Linked DNA regions of Homo sapiens: region 1 is linked to region 2. Evidence: fine-mapped expression QTL. A gene starts in region 2. The other region holds a variant in brackets. All regions are shown on one strand. Distances are between the middles of the regions. Region 1 has its middle 47 kb from the start of FMN1. Region 2 holds the start of RYR3-DT (RYR3 divergent transcript).

The links.
Region 1: its variant is fine-mapped to the expression of RYR3-DT in putamen (GTEx, PIP 0.99).

What each region holds. Positions count from the first base shown.
Region 1 is chr15:33,236,969-33,246,785 of GRCh38, reverse strand. It overlaps the pseudogene TMCO5B. Among named protein-coding and RNA genes, the nearest start is that of FMN1, 47 kb to the right of the region's middle. RefSeq lists a silencer at 8,392-8,561. The variant C/G (reference allele first, on the strand shown) is at 5,010.
Region 2 is chr15:33,304,999-33,314,815 of GRCh38, reverse strand. It overlaps RYR3-DT (RYR3 divergent transcript), which reads left to right and starts at 4,157. Exons shown (of 3, transcript NR_120327.1): 1 at 4,157-4,238; 2 at 8,385-8,484. RYR3 (ryanodine receptor 3) reads right to left here and starts at 3,849. Exons shown (of 104, transcript NM_001036.6): 1 at 3,720-3,849. The coding sequence starts at 3,770. RefSeq lists enhancers at 2,607-3,116, 3,117-3,628.

The DNA.
Region 1 (9,817 bases), 68 kb after region 2:
AAAAATACTGCAATTGATCATGGGAAGCATGAGAGTGTAGGAGGCTTACGTTTCTTCTTGGCTCTGTGTGGCCTGAACGCAAGGTCTACCTTTTACCTGCTCATTCCTGGGGCAATTACTGCATTGGCTGTTAGGGGCTTTTCCATAACGGATGTTTGTGTTCACATTTTAGGGACGCTATGATGGAAGACGTTGGACAGAATCCACTGGATGATGTGTAAGTATGGGAATAATAAAAGAGTTCAGTAGAGGAAGCTCCACGGGAAGAGTCTCCAGCAATCCAGTAAGGAAGAACTCCACTGTGTGAGAATTTATCTCCTCAAGTCTGAGGAGGCTTCCTAGGGATAAGAAACTTTGGCTTCAGTTCTCTGTTCTTCATCAGAATAATGATGGGATTTTCAAAGATCTCTAGTGTCTCAAACAGCTAATCAGTCTGGCAGGAAAAAGATTCATCACCCTTTTGGCCTCTACTCAGCCCATGTCCCTGCCTGACTAGGTTAGAAGATAGCAAAAGGAGAAGCCTTTCCCTTGCAGGTCTCTAAATGCTTTAGAGGTATCACTTGGATTCTGCATACTTCATCTAAGATATTTTAAAACAAGTGTGTTAAAGTATTCATAGAAAAAATATTTTTTTTGCTTCATGAAAGCTTTGTTTCAGTGGGTTCCATTTATAGTATTTAAAATTAAAATGTGGCTCCACTCCAGGAATTTACTTTATGCAAAATAGTGTAGAAATCAATTTATCATGGAAAACAAAATAAGGCTGGTTAAGCTTATTAACAACAGAAGATAAGAGAATGAGTGAAACTATAGGGGAACGTCTTCTTAGGGCTCCTATGTTTTCCTGTCCTGAGGTTGGTGATAAAGATGATTTTCTGTAGGTAGCAGACGATATAATTACCAGCATTAGAAGCTGTAAAACAGAACCTTGACTGCCTGAATTCAGACCTTGAAAAGGACCTGCAGAAACTGGATATGGAGAATCAGGTTCTCCTTAGAAAGATTAAAGAGAAAGAAGAAACTATTTCAAGGTAAGGCTTTGTGGTTGGTGGGGGAAGGGCCTCCCCGCCCCTGCAGGTCCTTTGGGATACAGGTGGAAGAAAGTTTCACTTATTTGATGGTGAATCTTGACGTTTTATTTAAATCCTAAAGTATGAACTACAGTGCCCTCAAAATACTTCAGGTATAGATTTTTGCATTAAATTTTCACATTAGGTTGACATTTTATCGCCATTGCATTTGGTAGTTACTCTGACTTCCTGAGACTTCGAAAGTAGCTTCTCAAATTGGGGCCCTGGCAGCTTTCTTAGGGGCTGAGCCACACCTGGGTGACTTTATATTTCTCAGCCTGGAAAGAAAGCTGGCCTTGTCACTAGAAGAAGCCAAAGAGGAGGAGGAGTTGAACTATGTCATAGATGAACAGGAGGAATCCCTGAGGGAGCTGGAATTAGAGACAGCAAAGCTGGTAAGGAGGTGTCTAGAAAAGGACCATTGGATGCATTTTGTTTGCATTCTGCTGCTCTCCTTCCCAGGAATTCATCCCATGTTCATTGCTTCTGTGTCTCAAATCATGGCTGTTTAAGAGAGTGTTCTGGGAATGAAGCACTGGGCATGGGGGCCGAAGAGGCTTTTTTCCCAGATCTGCTGTGTGAGCCAGAGTGCACTTTTCCGACTTGATAGACTAATCCCCAGATATTATTCCAGTGGCCTGATGAAGGGGGAGAGATGACGGCAGAGCAACTTTCTTCCCTTGACTTTCTTTTTCCCCACAGGAGAAAAGTAACGCAATCCTAAGCAGGAATGTGGTGGAGGTTCAGAAAAAGGTAAGGGGAGCCCTGGGTTTTTTAGGGTCCCCGAGTCCCTAAGAACATTGTGTCTTCACAAGAGAAAGGCTGGTGGGCTGGGCTGGGAGTATGCAGGAGGGGTCCTAGGCACATTCAGAATGAGAAAAGATATACATAAACGTTAACGGAAAGGCTGTTCTCCACATAGCAAAGCATGCCCTGGAAACAAGCCTCGTTTCTTAGGAATCTTATCAATAAGAGTTATCTTCCAGAACTCTGTAATCACAGAGACTGGAGAAGAAGGAGCAACTGGCAAAGTTTGCATGCTCCCTCTGCACTGCTGCTGCCAATTGTTCTCTGGGCATTACAGATTGTGGTGAGAGGGCTAAAGGGCTTTAGAGGGGGAAAAGACTTATCCCTCCTCCCACTCTGCCCCATTCTCTCTTCCCTTTCTCATTGTCCTCCCCTCCTCACTGTGCACTTTCTTCCATGGGCTGTGGGAACAGAAAAGTCTGTCTAGCCCACATGGAGTCAGGCAGCCTCCACAGAGAGAAGGAGATGCTTTTCTTCCAAGCTTCTATCCAGGGCCCGAATTAGTAACCACCATCTGCAGCCTGGGACCCCAGTCTGCCACTGGCCCAGGTTTTCATGTCTGTGTGCCTTACTTAGTTCATGATTTTTTGAATGGTATTTTAGATTTCAGGGTTATTTACAAATATTGGCCTTGAAGAAGAAACCACAAAGCAGATCCTGGAGGAAATGAAGGTGAGTAGAAAAAACAAACAGATTTTTCTGGGAGATGTGTCAATTCTAGGTCCTGTGAGAAATTGCTCTCAAGGACTACCCTAGGGTATGTACTGGTTATGTCTGTGTACTTATCAGAGATGAGTCACTGTCCTTTATTCTCTGCATGTAATCCCATGGCCTGTGGGGGCATTTATGACATCACTAGTCACACTAGGAGCAGAGATGACTGCAGTGGATCAAAGTGGAGGGAACTGCTCCAGAGTCCCCATCTTCCATCAGTCGATAAAACACATGTTCTGAATGCCCATTGGGACCTGCCCTCCAGAAGCTTATTATTTAAGTGAGGACACACAAATAAGATATTCAATAGGAAGAAAATATTGACTCCCATAGTCATACAGGGATGTGTCATGATCTTCTGATTTCCAACCCATGGCTCAAAGGCCAAAGAAGTTTTTTTAAAATTTATTTTGTTATCTTTTTCCTCTGCTAGAAGATAAACTCATTGAGAACATGAATTGTTGCCTATGTTGTTCATTTGTTTCCCCAGGGCCTAGAACTATGTGCCTGGCACATAGTAGATGCCCAATAAATATATATTGAATGAATGACTACACTGGACACCCAATAGTGGGGAAAACCCCTATTAGGAAGCTCTCTGCATACTTATGTGGTGAGTGTGGCAATTTAACTGAGCCCACTATACAAGAGCTCCACTGTCTTATGTATTTCTCAGAAAAAGAGAAACCAGGTTTCTCTCTCTCTTTTTTTTTTTTTTTTTTTTTTGAGATGGAGTCTCTCTCCATCACCCAGGCTGGAGTGCAGTGGTAAGATCTCGGCTCACTGCAACCTCTGCTTCCCGGGAGTTAAAGCAGTTCTCCTGCCTCAGCCTCCTGAGTAGCTGGGACTACAGGCACACGCCACGATACCTGGCTAATTTTTGTATTTTCAGTAGAGATGGGGTTTTACCACATTGGCCAGAGTTCACCATGTTGGCCAGGGTGGTCTTGAATTCCTGACCTCAAGCAATCTGCCTGCCTTGGTCTCCCAAAGTGCTGGGATTACAGGCGTGAGTCACTACGCCTGGCCCAGGTTTCTCTTTTATTTTCTGTGTGATTCAGGGGACATGCCAGTGCACCCTATGAAATATGAGTGGGAGGAAGAGGCTTGTGAGCTTTGGTCAGTAGGCCTGGAGGAAGGAGGATGGCTGGGTTCACTGAATGGGCACTGGCCTACTGAGGCGTAAATGTCAGCTCTGCCACTTTAAACTTTAACAAGTTACATACTCAACTTCTCTGCGCCTTTGTTTCCTCATTTGTAAAATGGAGAGGGGAGGGGGTAATAACAAGTGCCCACCCTAAATTGTTATCAGATGTCTTCAACATGATAGCCATTAGTGTCATGCCCTCTGCTGGTCTGGATATGGTAATTACCCACTTCCCTTCCATAAAAGAATGCTAGTAACTTTCTGCCGTCACTCATTGTCTTCCACAGGCAAGACTACAGAAGTCAACAGAGTCCTGTGCAAAGCAAGAGGAGGAACTGGCCAAGGCAGAGGCAATGTCTCTTCCACTGAGGGTCTGCCCGGGATAGAATGGGAGAGAATCCCAAGGGTCTTAGAAACAGATCTGCTTGAGGCATAGGAGGGGGAGGTACAAAAACATCTTGCAAATGAATTTCTGATTCTTATGCATTCTTATGCAGCTGAAGGGAAAGAAAACTTCTATTAAAAATACTGCTTTTACCATTTCTTACATCTCTGTGTCAAATACCATTGTTGAATTCCAAACCAAAGTGCCTTGACACGTCCCCTGGTATTTCACATGAGAGGCAGATGACAACTTGGGCAAAATATTTCCTTTGCTTAAAACCAGACCCTGTGCCTAATGATGAGATCACCTCTTTGTGATGTGACTGTTTTTCCTTCAAGTCAGGAGTTGCTAGGTAACCAGCCAAGTGCCAGTGCACCAGGTAGGGCCCCAGGGAGGAGACTGGGCTTGGTTCTGATTTAACTCATGAGGTTTGTTAATTTTCTTTCTTTTTAGATAGAGAGTGACTACCAATCTGTGTCTGACCTCTGTAAGGACCAGGTCTACTACATAAAGGTGCAACCCATGTGGAGGAAAAGTCCGAGTAGAGGCAGAATATCTCCAAGGCCATGGGTTCCTTGGTTTTTCATTAGGCTAGAATGTGTCACTAGGGAAAATGCTCTGTATACAACAGCAACAAGAAGACGGATGTATGTTAAGGATTTACTTTGTGCCAAGTACTGTGCTAAGCACTCAGCCTATAGTATTTTTCTCAATCAATTTGTTCAATAATTCTATGAGCGTGACAGTTATGATCAAGGGGACAATGAGGTTTCAGGAAGTTAGAATGCAGCTAGTAACAGGGAACACAGCTAGTAAACGTCAGAGCTGGGATTTGAATACAAGCAGGGACCTGAATGGGAGGGAGCTCTTTTTGTTCATACACATC[C/G]ATTCCGGTCACTAATATCTTTGAATTTTTTATTAGAACCCCTCCCCCACTGGTGTGTGCATACTGATGAGTATATTGTTTGGAAAATAATTAGCAGAATGTTTTTATCAATGACATCATGATGAGATATGGAAATTTTCCATTTATGACTTTGTTTATTTTTTAACTTCATGGAAAGAAATACCAGGAAGTTCTGAGGAAGATGAAAGAGGAAAAGGAGACGCTGCTTCTTGAAAAACAAATGTAAGCTTAGAAAAATGGCCTCCCTGACAGACTGCAGTAGCAGTCCGGCAGTCCAGGCGGCCTTTGAAGGGCGGGGTGCTTCTCAGCACAGTGTGTGTCACTGTGTAAATGGCCTCCAACAAGTCATCTCTTTCAGCCTCCGCTCCATGGTTCAGACTGGAAAACCAACAGCATTCAGGCTTTCCTCTTGCCTTCCTCAGCAACTGGTGTTTTAAAAGCCTCTTTTTGGCCAGGCGCGGTGGCTCATGCCTATAATCCCAGCACTTTGAGAGGCCGAGGCGGGTGGATCACCTGAGGTCAGGAGATCGAGACCATCCTGGCCAACATGGTGAAACCCCGTCTCTACTAAAAAAAAACAAAAATGAGCAAGGCATGGTGGCGGCCGCCTGTAATCCTAGCTACTTGGGAGGCTGAGGCATGAGAATCCCTTGAACCCAGGAGGTGGAAGTTGCAGTGAGCCAAGATCAGGCCACTGCACTCCAGCCTAGGCAACAGAGTGAGATTTTGTCTCAAAAAAAAAAAATCTCTTTTTAATGTTCTTCTCTTTGTTGTTGTTATTGTTGTTGTTTGTTTGAGACAGAGTTTCACTCTTGTCGCCCAGGCTGGAGTAGAATGGTCTGATCTCAGTTAACTGCAACCTCCACCTCCCAGGTTCAAGCGATCCTCCTGCCTCAGCCTCCCAAGTAGCTGGGATTACAGGCATGTGCCACTGCGCCCAGCTAATTTTTGTATTTTTAGTAGAGACAGGTTTTCACCATGTTAGCCAGGCTGGTCTCGAACTCCTGATCTCAGGTGATCCACCCGCCTCAGACTCCCAAAGTGCTGGGATTACAGGCGTGAGCCACCGTGCCCGGCCCTAATGTTCTTTTCACATGTCCTCAGAGGCATGCAGTTCCTGAAAATTATCTGGAGCTATGTTCAGAGAGGAAGAAACGTAGTAAAAAGAGGACTAGGGGCCCAGAAATATTCCTTTATGTGTGTGTGCTGTCCCCTTTCCCAGGATGCAGTGGGTCCACCAGACTGACCAGAGGCCCCAGTGATGCCCTTTTATACTTTCTTTCCATAGACTGTATGTCTCAGGACTTGTCACACTTTCCTTTTGATTATTTATACTTTTCAATTGCATTATATAATGTACATAGAGTGCACAAATTTTATATAGCTTGGTGAATTTTTATACATGATAACACCACTGAGATCAAGCTGTGGAACATTCTGAGTTCCCGAAAACCTCCCTGTCCCCTCCTCCCAGTCAATACTCCTGGAAAAGTAACCATTAGCCTGACTTGCATCTCTTTCTTTTTAAAGCATTCTTGAACTTTATATAAATTTAGTATGTTCTTGATTGTGTCTGGCTTTCACTAAGACTCACTCGCATTGCTGCATGATTTGTTCTTTTTCATGGCTGTTATATTCTATTATAGAAATATGGCACAATTTATCTATGCTACTCTTAAGGAACATGTTGCTTATTTCCAGTTTGGAAATTTATAATAAAGCTGCTACAAGTATTCTTGTGCATGTCTTTTGATGGATGTATCCTCTCATTTTTCTTGGGTTAGATACCAAGGAATAGAATTTCTAGGTCACAGAGTATATACATCTTTGGTTTACTAGATAAGCTGAACAATTTTCCAAAGTGCCTGTACCAATATCCCCTCCCATAAAAAATGTACAAGAGTTCTAGCTATTCCTCATCCTTACTTTCACTCAGTATTTATAGCCTTTATGATTTTAGCTATTCTGGCAGAAGGGTGTAGTGATGTATACAATTTTGATTTAAAAAACATTTTATTACTCAATAATGATATTTTATGTGCATTTTATTGCTGATTAATAATGATGTCTTACAGCTTTTCACACAGTTTGGAAATTTGAATGTCCTCTTTTGTGACATGTCTTTCGCCTGCATCTGTGAGATGGTTAGTCTTTTTCTAATTGATTTGTAGGAGTTCCTTATTTTTTTCATAAGATCCTTTGTCAAATGTGTGTATTATAGTCTATTCTGAGGCTTTCCTTTTTTACTTTCTTAATGACATTTTGGATAAACAATAGTTATTAATTTAGAAAAAAATCTAATCTGTGAAATGTGTCAATCCATTCTTTTTTGCTTTCTGCCTTTTAGAGGTCATAAAACTACTCTCTGTGGTTTCCCCTAGAATTTTTTATCATTTACCTTTTACTCAGGTTTACATTCTTTTGGAATTTATTTTCTTTTCTGTGGTGTGAGGTAGAGATTAAAATTTGTGGGGTTTTTTTTCCATATGGATATCCAATTGATCCAGCACAATTTATTGAAGATACTATTCATTTGCAGTGGTGTCTTATTTTATGTCTGGTGACCATATATGTGTGAGTGTTTCTGGATGCTTTATTCTGTACAATTAGTCTCTGTTCCTATCCTTGTGCCAAAACTACACTAATTATTATAGCTTTATAATTAGTATTGATATGGTAGCTTAAATTCTGCACGATTATCTTGGCTTTCTTGGCCCCTTGAATTTCTATATAAATTTTAAAATCGGTTTTTCAACTTCTACCAAAACAAAAACAAAAAACCTTGCTGAGATGTTGATTGGAGTTACATGGAATCTATAGATAAAGTGAGAGGATAATTAGTATCTAAACAATAATTTTCCATGGCCAGGTGCTGTGGCTCATGCCTGTAATGTCAGTGTTTTGGGAGACTGTGGGGCGGGGGAGGTTCTATTGAGGCCAGGAGATCGAGACTAGCCTGGGCAACATAGCAAGACTCTATCTCTACAAAAAATAAAACAAATTATCTGGGCATGGTTGTGTGTGCCTATAGTCCTAGCTACTCAGGAGGCTGAGGCAGGAGGATGGTTTGAGCCCAGGAGGTTGAGGTAAAAGTGAGATATATTGCACCACTGTATTCCAGCCTGGACCACCGAGTGAGATGCTATCTCAAAAAGAATAATAAAAATAAACAATAGTTTCACACACCATGATATCTTTATCCCTTCGTTTATTTAGATATTTAATTTCTCAAAATAACGTTTTACAGTTTTCTGTGTGGTGTTCTTATACACTTTCCATCAGATTTATTCCTAGGTATTTAATATTTTTAATGCAACTGTGAATGCTGTGTTAATTTGATTTTCTTTTTTTATTAATATTAAAAATAAAATAGAGACGGTGGCCAGGTGTGGTGGCTCATGCCTGGAATCCCAGCACTTTGGGAAGCTGAGGCAGGTGGATTACCTGAGGTCAGGAGTTCGAGACCAGCCTGACTAACATGGTGAAACTCTGTCTCTACTAAAAATAAAAAAATAAAAAAAATAAAAAAGCCAGGTGTGGTGGCACATGCCTGTAGTCCCAGCTACTTGGGAGGCTGAGGCAGGAGAATTGCTTGAACCCGGGAGGAGGAGGTTATGCCACTGTACTCCAGCCTGGGTGACAGAGCGAAACTCCATCTCAAAAAATAAAAATAAAATAATAAAATAAAATAGAGACAGGGTCCCACTATGTTGCCCAGGCTGGTCTCAAACTCCTGGGCTTAAGCGATCCTCCCACCTTGGCCTCCCAAAGTGCTAGGATTGCAGGTGTGAGCCAACATGCCAGCCTTGATTTTTTAATTGATTACTGTTAGTGCATAGAAATACAATTGGTTTCTATATATTGAACTTGTATCATTAATCTCACTAAATTCACCTATTCTAAAAATTTCTTTTAGCTTCTCAACTATAAATAATAACAATTGTACTTTTTCCTTTTCAGTCTTTATCTTTTTATTTCTTTTTCTTGCTTTATTGAATTATTTGCAAGCATTTGCAGGCATTATTTGCTGGTATTATTTACAGGCATTTCCATTAATGGACTCAATCCTATTGCATAAAATGAAACTTAGGATAACAAAACAAAATAAAACAAATGAACAAACAATGAACAGAAGGTATTGGCGAGTGAATAAAAGCAAGCAGATTCTGGAAGGGATCTGGCACTTGGAAAAAGAGAATGATGGGCATTATTTCCCCTATTTTTATAGTTTCTAGCCTGAAGAAAGACCAAACTGGGTGTGTAAGATGCACCAGCAGAGAAAACCTATAGTCTTTTTGGACTAACAAAATAGAGAATAAAGAGTTTGAGGCAGCCAAAGATACTGGGGAAAAAGTAGAGAGTCAGACATGGGGAGTTCCTAAATCTGTGTCTAAACTATACCTGAATCTCTGACTGGACTTCCAAACCATGCATGCTCAGGGCAATGTGTGAGCAGCCCAGCTGAGGACATAAGACCACAACTGAAACTTGAGCTGCCACCAAGACACAAACTGCAGTTTGAATCCAACATCAGGGTTATATCCAGCTTAGTTTTCATTGATTGTCTTCTTTTAAAAATGAATCACATTTTCCTGGTTCTTTATAAGTTTAGCAATTATGGATTTTAAATGTTGAGCATTGTGAATGTTAGTAAGAGTCTAGGATATGAATCGTAGATACCGCGTAACTTAGGAAAGCACCTTTCATCAGCCTCTCAGATTATGTTACCTAATTCTTGGCTCTGATCTCTTACCTAGATCCAAAGCCCAGGATGACTCCTCTCAAAC
Region 2 (9,817 bases):
CTGCCTCCCGAGCAGCTGGGACTACAGGCACCCACCACCACGCCCGGCTAATTTTTTGTATTTTTAGTAGAGACGGGGTTTCACCGTGTTAGCCAGGATGGTCTCGATCTCCTGACCTCGTGATCCACCCGCCTCGGCCTCCCAAAGTGCTGGGATTACAGGCGTGAGCCACCGCGCCTGGCTCTGAGTTCTGTTTCAATTAACATTGTGGTGGAAAGGCAGTTGGCAAGGAGAAGACTGTGATATTTTAAAAACAATAAGCTAAGGATTAGAGTTTTGTTTCGTTTTGTGTTTTTTAAATGGATACTGTAGTCTAAAGGAAAAAGTAGGAGAGAAAAGTTTTCTCCTAGCACTCTCAAAGCAGAATGTGGTGCCAGCTGCTCCACCGACTGTCTGAAGATGGGGTAATTGCCACTCTTCTCACCATAACTTCTTGCTTTCAGATCAGCGGCTGGCAGGTTTATCTGCTTCTGAGCAGCTTCAGAGCCACGTCAATGACACTGGCTACGTCAGCAAGAGCAATCGGAAGAGAGGAGGATGCCACTGCCAACAGCAGTGGGAGGGAAAATTTTAGCCTTAAAGATTCTGTCTATCTGCCTGATTCTAACTGGCATACATGACTGTCAGTGATTTCAGAAGGCCAGAAGAGGGTATATAGTTTTAGACTGCCTCCTTAAGGCTTGGGGTACAGTAGCATTTAGTTCACATGTGTTTAAGCTTCCAAAGCCCTTGTTTAGGTCTTGTTCCCTACTTAGGAGAGGGTGGGCTTCCAAATGTATCAGAGGACATAACCAAAATAAACACTACCACAAATAAGTGTCTAAAGCCACACCACACACACCTACAGTGGTTACTGCAGTAATTCTGGCTCATTTCACACTATCAATAGTTCTAGCTGCTTTCATTTTTGGCACTATTATAACAAACCTGACACTACAACCACTAACAATTTGATTAGGATCCTTGGCATAATGCTATTGTATGGTCTTTTTTTGTAAATAGGTTAAAAGCTTCTGCTCTCTGGGATGGCAATCCTTTAAAGTTCATGGTTACAAAGATATGATTCTATTCCATGGTCCAGTATGAGTCACCTTCTCATCCAGGACCATGTCGATGTGAGGAAGCATTATATATGACTAATACACTGCCAAAATGCTTTTAAAGGTGTTGTCTGGGGAGGAGAAAGAAAGCCTAAGGCAAAGGTAACTGAGTGAGTTCAAAGTGAAATAGCTTCCCTAACCCAGACATACCCAGAGGAGAGAAAAATCCCACTGCTAGCACAAGCCTGGTGTTCCCAACTACCCTAAAGTCAAAATTTTGTGCAGAGATCAAAAGCTTATGGCTATTGGATTCCAAAAAATCATTTTGTCGAATTCACAGATGAAGAAGGAGGATGCCAAGCTCAGAAAGCTGCAGTACTCCTCTTATGTTCTTAGGTATATTCTTAAGACTATATATAACATCTGGCGTAACGCTCAATGCCAGGCTCTAGCGGGAATGTAATTGAACATTGTATAATGAAAATTACCAATAACTTGTCAACAGCTATGTTCAAGTCACTCGATTTCCTGTGCTTCAGTTTCATCACCTATTTCCTTCCCAGTGAGCTAAAAACAAAGATGTTAAGGTGCCTCATAGGGTGAAGAAATGAGGAACACACCTTAAAAAATACATAAGGTGATAACTAGAAGGAAAAGAACCAATAACGCCACATTTGGAGTCACTGCCCCCATGGTTACCACCATCACTCGCTCTAAGCCATAACCGGTATGCAGTTCTCTGCAACAGGGGCTCTGAACCTGGGTCCTTGAACCCCACAGGCTGTCATGGGTGTACTTTAAAAGAGGTCTGCCAGCTCTGATCTCTAGGGCAGGAAGCCCAGGACACAAAACTTAAGAACCACTACTATAGTAAACCTTGGCTACAGGTGTACCAAAAACAAACAAAAACAAAAAACACTTACAATGCCAGATGGAGAGGAAAAGTCAGGGAAGATGGCTCAGAAGCCAAGAGAAAAGCATAAGGATCTCACAACAACTACCACCTTCCTAAGCCTCAACTCCCTGGGACATCTATTCAACACTGACCCTGTCTGAAGATAATTTTTTCAAGCAATAACGCCTAGAAGATCATTAATAATAAGGAGAAGAAATGACTGATCATGGAGGACACAAGGCAGAAAAAACCTGAGCTGCCACCCATCCACTACTAAAGACACCTGTCAGAGGGACAACCAAAGGATTTGATGGAGCTTTGAGGGGAGCAGGCAGCTTTATAACAATAGGGTTGTCATGAGTTGCAACTGTGGGGCCATCTTGTGTGCAGTGTGAGAGATGAGAATGGAGTCTGGGTCTGCAGGTCAGACGAAGGATGAAGAGATGAATACTCTAGCCTCTCAGTAGTACCAGCAGGGCGATAGGTACTTCCATACCCCCCCCAAATAAGACCCAAGTCCCAGCTTTGACAAAAGAACCATGTTTGGAAGAGAAACTGAAGTAAATTGGAAGGAAGCGCTTCAACAGGAGGAGAGTGGTTCAAAAGATGGACAAGAGGTAAGTTGTGATCTTCGAAGACCAGGTCATGGAGAAGGGGGCACCCTTAAAGGGAAGTGAGAGAGGGAAAGAAAGAATTTCATTCTAATTCCTGAGAGCAAGGCAGCGCATATAAAATTACCTAAGATTTACAGAGCGATTTGCCGTTTACAAAACATTATGACATTCACGATAACGTTTAATCCTTATCACCCTGAAACGCTGGTTACATTTTATTTTACACATGAGGAAACTGAGGCTGAGTAGGGCGGATTATGCGACTTGCTCAAGGTCACTTGGCTGAAGTCAGCGCTAGGATGCATCCCCAATGCCCCCACCCCTCCGGGTGGCCGTCCACCCTGAAAGTCTTTGTATTATCTCCTACAGGGCAAGGCTGGTGTGGCTGCAACAGACTTCGCCCCCTCACCCCCAAATCTGGGACGGAGCAGCGCCCTCAGGTGTCAAGGAGGGGACCTGAGTGACGCGGAGCCACTGACTGGGGTTTCCCTGTCCTGCGGGGCTCGCGGGAGCCAGGAGCAGAAGCCACAGCTCTCGAACACACGACAGGCAGTCAGTCAAGTCAGGCTCCAGCAGCAGTTGCCGGCGTGGGGCTTAACACGAGAGGGGCAGCGCTGGGTGAATTCCCCTCCGAGCGATCCCAGGGCTAGGACCAAGCGCCTGCGCCCGCTTCTCCGACCCGGCTCCCCACACTCCCCCCTGCCCCGCTGGCTCCTTCCCGGAGGTTCCCCTGTGCGTGGGGGCGCCCTGGAAGAGGAATGGGGCTGGGGTGGAGTATGGAGGTGTCAGAGGGCCGACCCCGGGGCGAGGGCTTCCAACGCCGATCTTATGGGTCAGGACAACCGCGAACAAACCCCGGCTGAAGTTTGGGCATCAAGGGTTTCAGACCAAGTAGCAAGTTGCCTGGAGAGCGAGCGGTCCTAGGTGGAGGGCCTGGGGCAGGGGTGGCGGTAGGGGAACAAGGGAGAGGCAGGAGATGGTGCCCCTTCCCACGCAGCCCCTCGCGGCCCCGCGGGTAGGTGGCCGGTCCGCCTCTGCAGCCCGCGGGTGCGGAGAAAGCGCCCGGCACCGGGCACCCGGCACCGCGGCGCAGCGCAGCCAGCCCCTCCTCGCCGCGCTCCGCGCTCCTCCCCACCTGCCCACGGCCTCGCCCCCGCCGCGGAGACTCACAGTCCTCAGAAACTGGATCTCGTCCTCGCCTCCTTCTCCCCCTTCGGCCATGGCTCCCGAGGCGTCGGCGGTGCCCCAGCCTCCGGCGCCTCTGCTTCCCCCGGCAGCCGCTCGGCGTGCGCTGACTGCTGCTGCGCTCTTTCTCCTCCTCCTTTTCGTCCTCGTCCTCCACCTCCTCCTCCAGCTCCTGGCTCAGCCTCAGCCTCAGCAGCGCCAAGCTAATCCCCGACCATATAGGGAGCTGGGCTAACACTCCACTGCACTGCAGAGCGCCAACGCCAACCAAGCAGTCCGCCCACCCCTCTCGCCTCTCGCCCCAGCCAAGTGCGCTGCGGCCGCCCGCTCCGTGGAGAGCGCAACGCTGGGCGCGTCGAGCTGGCGGGGGCGGTGCGGGGGCCCTGGGCTGGCGCGGTGGAGCCTCCCCCGCACCGCTGGGTACCGCACCGCACACTCAGCGGAGGCGCGCGCCCCGCGGCGACCGGAGGATGTCCCCTAAACTGCTCCAATTCACAAACAAAGGCCAGTTGCTTAGCTCCAGCGCGCCCAGACTGGGTACCAACCCTCTCGCTTTGCTCGCTTTGCCCGCTTTGCCCACTTTGCCTGTGTGTGTGTGTGTGTGTGTGTGTGTGTGTGTGTGTGTGTGACAGAGATAGAGAGAGAGAGAGAGGAAAGAGAGAGACAGAGACAGAGAGAGAGAGAGAGGAAAGAGAGAGACAGAGACAGAGAGACAGAGAGAGGAAAGAGAGAGAGACAGAGACAGAGAGAGAGAGAGAGAGAGAGAGAGAGATCTGGACTCGAATACCTTGCTAGGACCCGCGTGCATTGTTGGGCAAGGAGAAGACGGTGCAGTGAGGAGCGAGGGTGATTGTCCACTTACAACAAAGTTTGCAACTCCCTGGATAGTCCTTTCTACACCTTAAGAGAACCCCTTCCCCTCTTCAAAATTGGTAAGTACACTTTACCAAACCCCTGGATTGTCCAGGGTTGCTGTGACTTCTGTACCCCAGGGAGCTTCTGGGGGATCCTGTGCCACCCTCAATTTGGAAGTCAGGTGGCATCACAACCCTTCCTCTCTGCCCACCCCTAACCTTATTCTGCATTTAGAGTTCCAGCCCTGTGGACTCTAAAGGGAGTAGAGAGTAGTTACAGGAGGCTCCCTTCCAGGTCCTGGAAGGCTCCTACATCCCACCCAGCCTTAGGTCCTTTTCCATGGTTGGGGATTGCCAGATTGGTCCTTGCCTTGACTGACGGTGCAGGGTGCCCCCTTCTGTTTGATGGCCGAGAAGCTCCAAGGCAAGAGACTGTTCAAGGCAAAAGGCACCAGAGATGTAGATTTAGGAGGAAGTGCAACTGGGAAGGTGGTAATTCTGGGCTGATGATGGTGGAAGACACTGGAAACCCCAAGCCATTTCACAGCTTCATATACCGCCTCCTTGTGGACGACATCTATCTCTTGATGCTACCTTAAGATCTCTTTCCTGAGCTTCCGTCCCATATGTTCTGATGAACATCAGAAATGCAAAGAAAAATGTTTTTTTCTTGTATTGTACTCAAACTGCTACCTTCTAGGCTTCAGCTTGGGCCTTGTGCCTCTTCTGAAACCCGCCTAGAATAAGTCAAACCATCTGTACATTGTGGCCCTTCACCTCTTAGAAGGCATCTGCCATGCTTGCCTCTATGGCCCACCATCCACTCTTTTCTTCTCCTGGCTCAAGGTTCTTCTTAGCCCCAACTTTCCCTGTAGTATAGTTTCCAGAGCCTATGTCATCTTTGATGGCCATATGAGCATTCCAGGTGGTCTTCTTCCTGAATTGTTGTGCTCTCCGTCCTTGTTTTGGACAGTCTTTATGTGCAGCCTAATATTGGATTGGCTTCTGGAGAAACACTAATGACACTCACTGTGTTTGGAGTTAACTAGAATTTCTAGATTTACTTTTTTCCTCCCACGTGAACTGCAAAAGTCAGCTCTTCTCCATCTTGATCACATGCAAGTGCTTGAGTACCTGTGGGCACGGTGGCTCACGCCTATAATCTCAACACTTTGGGAGGCCAAGGCGGGTGGATCACCTGAGGTCGGCAGTTCGAGACCAGCCTGACCAACATGGAGAAACCCCATTTCTACTAAAAAAAAAAAAAAAATACAAAATTAGCCGGTCGTGGTGGTGCATGCCTGTAATCCCAGCTACTTGGGAGGCTGAGGCAGGAGAATCGCTTGAACCCGGGAGGTGAAGATTGCCGTGAGCCGAGATCATGCCATTGCACTCCAGCCTGGGCAACAAGAGCGAGACTCTGTCTCAAAAATATGTGTGTGTGTGTGTGTGTGTGTGGGTGGGTGTGTGTGTGTTCCTTCCAATTGTAATACCCAATCATGTATTGATGTCTCTATATGTGAACCTTTAAGGTATTTTTAAAGCTAGAGTATGCCAGGCAAGGTGCTAATTATTACTAACCTGTGATATGGCATACCTTCAGAATACTAATAGAGGCCCTCTTGGATTAACTTTCATACTTTTGATTATGCTTAATATGGCATACCTTCAGAATACTAATAGAGGCCCTGTTGGATTAACTTTCATACTTTTGATTATGCTTATTTAATGATCAAGAACTTACCTAAGTCAGAAAAATAATACCTATTGAGTACTATGCTTATTACCTGCGTGACAAAATAATCTGTACACCAAACCTCCATGACATGCAGTTTACTTATGTAACAAACCTACATATGTACCCTTGAACCTAAAATAAAAGTTATAATTAAAAAATAACCTACATAAATATATTATTTTGCAGCCCAAATTTCTTCTTGTTCATAGGGCTACTATAAATGCCTTTCTTACATACTTTACTGAAATACAGATATGTAATCTGGGACACCACCTCCCGCATCAGTCAAATAACCCTACCACAAAAGAAGTAAGAATGGAGTTCTGTAACACCATTGGTGCATCCACTTGGATTCCTGATGGTCTTTGTGTTCCTTTAGAGTTCCCAAAAGTAAGCTGTTTAATTATCAAAATCTAAGATTGTTCTGGAGCTCAGCGTATAAAAGAGTCTCAGGCTGTTGTTTCAGACTGTAAACTGGGGAAGGTGGACATTTACTTCTATTTGAAATCTATTGGTACTTCTTCCATTCTCTAAGATTTCCCAAAGATGCACCAATAATGATGCTGTAGTCATACAGGTACAGATAAATAGTAGTTCAGACACTGTGCTTTGATACTTGTTTTGCTATTAGTTCACCCATTAAGACCGGGAGAGAATAAACTAATAGTAAGTTACTTGTCTAAATTCATACATCTAGTAAAAGGAGTCACACAATCTCCTCTTACTTGGAGTAAAACAATCTCAATACTTTTCAGTACTTTCTCCACTATAGTGCCTTGCTTCTAGAACAGCAAAGTGGAAAACATCAGGTTCATACACCACCTCCATGCCCCCATACCCCATACACATTGGGTTTGCTTCCACACAGCCTATATTTTAAACTGAGTCTCTCTCAAGACCAGTTACTCTTAGTAGAGAGCCGGAGGACTTGGACCTTAGGTCTTAGAGGGTACTGTAGCTACTACATTTTGAAAGAAAAACCCAAAGCCTCCCAGGTTTCTAAACCTCTGGAGAAAGCTATCAGCCATTATTATGACTTCAATTAGGTGCACACAACAGGGAAATCAAATACCTTTGGGATACTGGCATGGTTCAAAGTCAGACCTCAAAGCCTGCTGTATTTGAATGTTGGGGCACTCTGCAGCCAATATCAACAGCAGGTGGAGAGCCTGTAGTGGGGGCCAAATCAGAAATTTTTCATTTTTATCATTATAGCACTTTTATACCTTTTACATATACAATTTTAAAGGCCTGACATTGAAATATTGTTATTCAATATTGACTATTGAAATAAAATTCATGTATTTATTTTCTCCTCTGGAGGTTCTCAAAGTATTGGTCCTAAGGATTTTCTCACATAAGAGGGCCTCTTATTTGTGTTTTAACAGTAATATTGCTATAGTTTTAAAATGCTAATGAAAATGTCCACACTCATATAAGTCAGTATCTCATTTGCTATGTTGTATTATTCATGGTAGCCAGTTGCCCAAGTGGTCTCAATGAGGCCAAGGATATGGATTCAGTTCTAGGAGGGCCAGTTAGCTTCACTCCATTTGCTGTCCAAAGACTCTGGCCCCTTCATTCTGGTTAAAAGTCTCATACATCTTTGTTCATTTAGCCATAGGGGAGGCAGGCTTAAGCTTTAACAAGCTAGGACTTCCCATGCTTGGAGACACAGAAGCTAAGAGGTCACACTTGATAAAGATAGCCTTCACCCATGTTACTAGCAATATATTAAATTCTACACAACACTAAATCTTTCTCCAATATCCATTTCAGCCTCACTTCCTAACTATAGCAGCCATCCATTTGCTGAAAATGCATTTCTTCCATTAATTGCGCTCATGGCTTTGGTCTGCATTGACTCAGGATTTGCCTAAGGAACATATAAAAGGGAATGATGCAAAGAACTGTAGAGTTGAGGGAACTGACTCTGCTAGCTACCATCTTTTAAAATATCTCACCATATACACAAGTACTATTATATACTGACTGAAGATTTATTTGTTTTTCATTAGCAAAAAGAAAAAAAAACACTTTTCTCTGCTTTTTGTTCAGGTGTTCCAAGGCAAGAAGTTATTTTCACCAGGGAAGCCTGTGAACAGAAAGAGCTCCTGAGACTACACCTGCTTTTAATTTGGTGTCAGTAGGAACGATGGTATACACATTTTACAAAAGTCATTTTTTAATGTTAAGAAAAAATTATCAATTGTTTCCAAGATCTTTATAATAAGCTACTAAATTGGTATACTAATATAGCTTTGTCCTAAAACTTGGAAGCCATACCAAAAATCCTTGATTCAGATTCCTTTCTAAAATAGACAGGAAACAGGTACAAAAAAAAATCTTTCTTTTTCTGATGATATGTGCATTATCTTGTTTATAAAAGCCACGGACATCGCAACTGCTTAACACAGGCAAGGATCCACTTACTGATACCTTCCTGAAGCTGAACACATGGAAATGTCGTCGTTGCCACTGCCTCCTCCTTCTCCGCCTCTTCCTCTTCTTCTTCCTCCTTTCTTTTTCCTCTTTTTCTCCTTCCTCTACTCCTTCTTTTTCACCTTCTCCTTCTTTTTCCTTTTGATGTTTTAAGATTGGAGGATTACATTATAAGGCAAAAGTTAATATGCCATTCTGGCGAAAGGCTCCGGAAACTAAATAAAGAGGGGGCTTTCTCCCAGCGGGGCTGGGGCAGCCTCTGAGGCACAGCAGAGATAGAGGCAAGCTGAGCACACTTGCAGAAGCCTAGGAGGCAGATCTTTTGCAAGGTGCCGTCCATTGAACTAATTCATCTTCAAGGAGTCTCCAGTTGGAAAGGGTTGTTAAAGCAATAGATTAAGCCACCAGCATTATAGTAGTTTATTTGCATTTCCCTGCAGGTCAGCCTCTGTTTAACAGTAAATTTATACTGTAATCATTGTGTATTAGACATTAGAAATTAGACATTTGACATTAGAAACACTAGAGTTTGAGTCCTGGGCAAAAGTCTACCATTTGTATGATTCTGAGCAAATAATTTAAACTCTCAAAGCCTGTTTTCATTTTATGAAAATACCCACTTTTGTGTGTATTTTAAAGATTAAATGACTGGGTGATTAGAATGTTTAGCAGAATGTCTGGTAAAACTGCTCAGCACAAAACACCTAGATATTCCTTGCAGATCAGTCCCTGTCCTCCTTTGTGTTGGTTTCCAACGCCTGCCTTTCCGGTCTATTTGTATTCTTGCCTCTCTTAAAGTTCTATTCTTATTCGACTTTTATGAGGCCTTTACTCACACAAAAAGAGACACAATGTTTCTGATTTCAGCAAACGATTTCCTGCCCCAATAAGCAAAACATTCCGGGCAGATCTCATGTGTTGCAAGTTAATGGTGAACACCAACACTGCTTTTCTGTGTTTGTTTCCTAGGGAGTTTGTTCTGAGCTGTATTGTGTTTGCATCTTTAATGAGAGATGTATTCTGTTGCTATGGCATATTGAAATTTGTGA